2 linked regions of the Homo sapiens genome follow. The protein of the gene in region 2 interacts with the protein of the main gene of each other region in a biochemical or structural test. Each region holds a gene or a part of one and is shown on either strand. Other genes may lie near its edges.

Region 1 (3,754 bases), on a different chromosome or scaffold from region 2:
CAGCCATCCCAGGGTCAGGGATCAGGTGGAAGCTGGCAGTTTCAATCTATCCTGTGGATAGAGTGTGAAAGCAACAAAACCCACCACCGTTAATACCAACATAGGAGCTGAGCTTTTAATGGCCCAATTTGCCTTAGTCTCCAGGCAGAGCTGGGTAAAGCTAGAGCTTCTGGCTTTGCTTATATGGAGAAGGGGGAGCAGTTACTGAGGCAGCTTAATTCTGACACCTCAGAGATGTGGCCAGCTTTTTGGAGCAGATTCTCCAGAATGGAGAATGGACTAGCAACTGCTGAAGATGGGCTTGTCTGGCAAGGGAAACTGGAAACTGGGGCCCATGAACATCCCCAAGGAAGGTAGGCCCAGTGGAATTTCCCACTCTTTGTTTCTAAGCTCTTCGAGATAAGGATGACATCAGGGACTCAGCTGTTAATTAAATGTGGGCGGGTGAGCATGGCTTCTAGAGGCTCCATGCTCTAGATGCTGGGACCCAGGTGCTAGAGCAAAAGAGCAGGTGGCTTCCAGAGGCTGAGAGAAAGGCCTGTCTCTCCATAGGCCACATTGGGAAGGGGAGGCACGGGACCTGGGGCCCCACACTAGGGGTGAGACCCCAGGCCCAATCTCACCCTCATTGGGAACTTGGCCTTCACCGTCCCCCTCCCCCAGTGTTGTTTTTTCAGGTCTGATGACTGCATTCTGCATTCCTGTGACTGTCCCTGCCTACAGCCCAACCCCCAGCCCTGGTCTGGCCTTGATGCCTAGCTAATTTTTAAAAACCTGCCCCAAGGTTGGGTGAAACCCCATCATCTGAATGCCCAATCTCAAAATGTTCACTATCAGGAGGTGATAATCATAGTAATTAACTAGTTACATTAATTGATGTTATTCACAACATTAACTAGAATCTGTACAGCTTCTTGCTATTTACAAAGTGCTGAAACACACACATAGACACACACACACCTCTTTTGGTCTTCTCAGTAGCTGCGTGTCGGCAGGACCAGGGATCTGGGATTTCCATTTTATAGGAGAAGAAAGTGAGGCCCAGGGAGGGAAAAACAACTGCTCCATATCATTAGCCAAGTATGAGTTGCTGCTGCTGCGAGGGTCTGAGAGGATAGATATGTTCTCCCTTCCCATTCATTCCTCCATTCCTTCCTGCATCCATCCAGCATTTATTAAGCACCTACTGTGTGCCCCATTCTGTGCTAGACACTTATCCCTAAGCTGGGACACTTTTCCAGAAAGCAAGAATCCTCGTGTTCCTGAAAGATGAGTTGGGAGGAGGAGGGGCACACATCCCGCTGGCCTTGGGGAACGTGGGACTCCAGATCAGTAGGTCTTGGTGGATGTCCCTTCTCAGGCTGTCCCAGGTGAGTGAGGAGCCTCATTAATTATTTCTTAAAAAAAAAAAAAAAATTAAGGAGCCTATGTGACTTCGTTCATTCTGCACAGGCGCTGCTCCTGGTGGGATGGCTGTGGCTGGGGGAAGGTGTAGGGGATGGGAGACGCCTATAGTCGGCCACAGAGTCCTAGGCAGGTCTTAGGCCGGGGCCACCTGGCTCGTCTCCGTCTTGGACACGGTAGCAGAGGCCTCATCGTCACCCAGTGGGTTCTTGCCGCAGCAGATGGTGGTGAGCATGCAGTTCCGGAACTGGAAGGCAAGAGGCTTGAGTCAGGGCCAGGGCTGCCCACAGTGTGCTTGGAACTGGCACGTTAGTGAGGTTCGCCCCGACCCTTTGCCTGCTTCTGCCCCTCACGATTCCAGCGCCCCATCCACTCAAATCCAGCTTCCTGGAGGGAACCTGCTAGGCAGACGCTCCTCACCCCTAGAGATGCCAGGGACTGAGCACAAGGGGGCTGTGTCACCCGTGACATTTCATGGTGCCCTCTGTGTGCCAAGGGTGTTCTGTAAATTATCTCTTGTAATCCAAGAGTTTGGTGTTTTGCCCTTTCTACCTTTCTATGGATGAGGAAACCAAAGCACAGAGAAGGAAATTGACTTGCCCAGGGCCATACAGCTAGAAAATGGCAGAGCTGACTTCAGAGACTGTTTACCCAACTGTTTACCCCTCGGAGGTACCTCTCCGAGGAACCCTTTACCCCTTTACCCCTCAGAATAAGACTTTTTAGCTCCTTATTCAGCTTTATGGAGACTGGCCCATCCCATTCCCGACTTGGGTCCTTCTGACTTTGACATTGGGCTTCCAGAACTAGCTGACTGGAGCTTCTCCCACCTGAGTGAGCATCTGAGCCACCTGTGGAGGGCTTGCTGGAAATGCAGGTTCCTGGGCCCACCCTGAGATTCAGCAGTTCTGAGTGGGGCCAGGAATCTGCATTTCTCACACACTCCCCATTGGGACTGCTGACCCAAGACTGCTGCCAGTAACCCTGATGGAGCCCCCTCCCCTGCCCTGGGAAGTAGCTTGTCCTTGGCAGGCAGCGCCTGTGGCCTGGGGCACTGGGGCCCTCCCACCCGCAGTAGGCACCTGCTTGTTCATCATGATATAGATGACAGGGTTGTAGATGGCGGCGCTCTTGGCAAAGAACGCTGGGATGGTCATGAAGATGGGACCGAAGTTGGAGCCCTGGTGGGTGAAGATGTAGAATGCCACGCTGGCGTAGGGCACCCAGCAGATCAGGAAAGCGATGACCATGATGATGACCATGCGGGTGACCTCCTTCTCTGCCTTCTGTGTGGTGGCTGACTCCTGCTGCTGGGCAGCGGCCTGCAGGACACGGGACCCGGGTCCAGACCATGGCTCCTCCAGGGAGCAGGAGCCGCAGATGCATGCTGGGGGCTGGACCCTCAGAGCCGTGAGGCCGCCCACCCCCCGGCCCGTACCTCCTTGACGGTGAAGACGAGCTGCCCATAGCAGAAAAAGATGATAATCATGGGGATGGTGAAGTGGACCACGAACATGTAGATGACAAAAGACTCGTTGTTGACCTCCGGCTTGAGCGTGTAGTAGTCGATTCCACACGAGCACTGCAGGCCCTCGGGGATGTACCTGAGGACAGGCAGGTAGGGAGACCCTGCCTGTGAGGGACTTGGGAACAGCCAAGGTGGCTGCCGAGCGCTGGCCCTTTCTGGGGCTTCACATTCCCTCCCTGGAAAAGGGGATCATAAACGTCTGCATGGCTGGGTGACAGGATGGAATGGATCAGATGGGGATGCAGATGCACCTTGTGGAATCAGTGTCGCTTCATTGTTTGGTGGCTGCGTTACCAGATGACACCACCCAGCCTCTCCCTGCATGCCCAGCCCCAGCATCCACTGCCCGCTGAGGCTAGGGCTATGCCACGCAGAGGGTTGGTGAGGAGGTGGGGAGAGCCCTCAGGCTCTGCATTTGAGGAAGTTTGTACAAACCGAGGTCTTCCTAGCCCCAGGGTGAGAGTATTTTCCAGGCCAAAGATGGACACACAGAGTATCTAAGGGATCTTTGTGCAGCTTCTGGAAACTAGAGGCTTCCAGCGCACGTCATTAGGACGTGGCAATGGTTCCTGATATTGGTGACAGTGGACGGGCCTCAGGAAACCCAGAGCGTCCAGCGGCTCTGCTTCCAGAGGATAGAACTAGGCCAGATTGGAGAAGATGGGGAAAAAGTCCAGGGGGTGGGCTCAAATTCAGCAAGGGGTAAGAAATGGACCCTAGCAAGACTGAGGAGGAAAGGGAAGTGAGAGTGGGAATTTTCTGGAGACAGAGGGACATGAGGCCTCTGGGGACCAGAGTCACCAGTCCTATTGTCCAAACCAC
Region 2 (2,492 bases):
GTCTTGGGTCCCAGATCGGGAATCCCAGTTCTGAGGTGCAAGGGCCGCTGTGCCTCACTGGCTACCCCACGTTCCAGCATGTGCCTGGCATGGCGAAGCCTGGACAGCCAGAAAGGCTCCCTCTGCAGAGCCCGCCTCTTCTGTATAAGACCGGGCAGGTGGGACCTGCAAATGCGCCGTTTGGTGTCATGGTGCTGGCACTGGCTCGAGCCCTTGTCACCCAGCTCCTCCTTGGTGCCAAGTGGCCAGAGCACTTCTAGAACCATCTGCTGGGTTTGAGATCAGAAGCCGGCGGCCTGGTAAGAATTCAGGTTTTCTTGGGCCCCGCCCACTGGAGCTGGGCCATCTGTGGGCAGTTCAGGGGGTGGTCAGTGTGGGGGCCGGGTTTGGGTGGGTTCCACTGTCAACCTTAGGAAAGGGTTAGCCCAAAGGCCACAGGCATCTTGGGGACAGCTGTCGTATGCAGAAGAAACAGAACAAGAGCTCAGCAGCAGGAGAGAGATGCCGATGCCATGCTACTTCCATTAAGGAATTTATTTCTCTTTTAAAAACAACAACAGTGGCTCCATCTAGATCCAGCGGCACTGTGACGCGATAGACGGAACACACAGAGTTACAGCAGCGGGAGAACAGAAGCCGCTGCCTTCAGGAGTGACCGCCACTGTGGAAGTTTCCATTCATTAATGTCCAAATCTCCCTGAAAAAAATTAGAAAGCTTTGGATGCTAGAAGGATTCTTATTATTTTAACAACACCAAAAGCCACTAAACTCTTCTAATTGAGAACACTCGCTTAGGGACTGTTACAAAAATGACTTCTTGATGGACTAGGGAAAGACATCTAAATTCCACTTTGGGGGGGAAGTGTCTTTCTCTGCCAGGGAGAGCTGGCTTTTCAAATGTTTTCAATCACTGTCTCCGGCACAAGCCTTTACGTTTAGGCCAGGTGAGACACCCCCGGCCTGTGCAGGGTCTGACTTGCACACGCTGAGCTTCAACAGCTGGGTGGTGGGTGGGGAGGGCAGGCGCAGAAGGGGTCTCTGGGAGAGGAGGCTTTGCAATCGTGGTCTATTGTGATCAGGAAGATGGCAGCTCTCTGTATTCATAATCCACACAGCGATGTCACTTCCAAATGCACAAAGACTTCATACTCACTATCTTTCCACAGCCGGGGCTAAAAAGTTGGAAGATCCTATCTCAGAGTGTTGGGTTATGAAAACAGGAGACCACCTCTTGGAAGTACAGGTATTCAGGAGGACGTGCATGCACACCAGGGGACCCCAGAGGACAGCTGAGTGTCACTCAGGTGTTTCCTCTTCTTCTCAGAGATTTCCAATTATCCAGGAAGCCACCGTCCCCTTTGGCAAGGCCTGGGATGCCAGGCTCAAGGAGGCTGCGGTGCCCCCTCCGTTTTGAGGGCAGCGGCTCGGTGGGAAAGTCGATGGGTAGCTGGAACTGATAACACGAGCCTTTGGGGAAAGGACAGGGTGTGGAGGAAGAGAAGGGATTTCTGCAGCGGGGCCAGGCTCCCGGGAGACGCATGGAGACTTGCGGGCCTCAGGGAGGGAAGGCCTCGGTATCCTCAGGGGCTCACCTGGGCTCTGATCCTACTTGTGCTGTCAATGCAAAGGCTGTGTGTGTTCCCAGGACTTCCCACCACCATTTGTCTCGGCAGCTGCTTGCTGGTATGTGTATGACCCAGGCCTCACAGCTGTGTCTGTGGGGCAGGCTAGGCCTCCCCGCCCCCGCCCCTCCGAGCAATGCCTTTCAGGAAGCCTCCCGTGGCTGCGCAGGCCACAGCAGCAGCGAGCAGCCCTAGAGCCCCGGGTTCCCGGCCAAGGAAGAGGCGAGAATGGGTTGCTGTGGCATGTGAGTGCATCGTCCGCAAGGCGGGGACCGGGTCTTCTTGCTATTTTGGGTGGTATTCTGGGTGCCCCCCAGGGGACTCAATAAACACTTGTAGGGCATCATGGTGACCATGGCAGAGACCGCCTCTGTCCACCAGGGACAGCAGCTCATCTCCTGAAATGCAGATGCAGAGACGCTTCTGAGAGATCCCATGTCTCACCTCAAAGTCACGAAGTCAGTGAACGTCTGGTGAAAAAAAATGTCATGCCTGGAGCAAGAAAGACTCTTCTGTGAAGCGCTCAAATGCATGAACGAGAGTAAATCCGTTCACCGTCCAAATATGCCTTATCCTGGACAGGTAGATGGGTGGACAGTGTTGTTTGCTTTTAATTTTAAAATATCTTTTAAAAAATGACCGTATAGGCCAGGGACAGTGGCTCACACCTATAACCTCAGCACTTTGGGAGGCTGAGGCAGGAGGATAGCTTGGGCTCAGGAATTCGAGGCCAGCCTGGGCAACATGGGGAGACCCCCCCCCCATCTCTACAAAAAATTTTAAAAATTAGCTGAGTATGGTGGTGCACGCCTATGGTCCCAGCTACCTCGGAGGCTGAGGCAGGAGGATAGCTTGGACTCAGGAGTTTGA

Evidence for each region.
Region 1: of the proteins of GRK5 (region 2) and RHO, one has a biochemical effect on the other in vitro, tested with the Homo sapiens proteins (one study listed by BioGRID).

What each region holds. Positions count from the first base shown.
Region 1 is NC_000003.12:129,531,505-129,535,258, reverse strand, and holds part of RHO (rhodopsin), read right to left. Parts: intron 3,009-3,754; coding exon 2,843-3,008; intron 2,727-2,842; coding exon 2,487-2,726; intron 1,652-2,486; coding exon 1,541-1,651; 3' UTR 1-1,540. UniProt on the Homo sapiens protein: Photoreceptor required for image-forming vision at low light intensity. Required for photoreceptor cell viability after birth.
Region 2 is NC_000010.11:119,457,770-119,460,261, reverse strand, and holds the end of GRK5 (G protein-coupled receptor kinase 5), read right to left. Parts: 3' UTR 517-2,492; downstream 1-516. UniProt on the Homo sapiens protein: Serine/threonine kinase that phosphorylates preferentially the activated forms of a variety of G-protein-coupled receptors (GPCRs).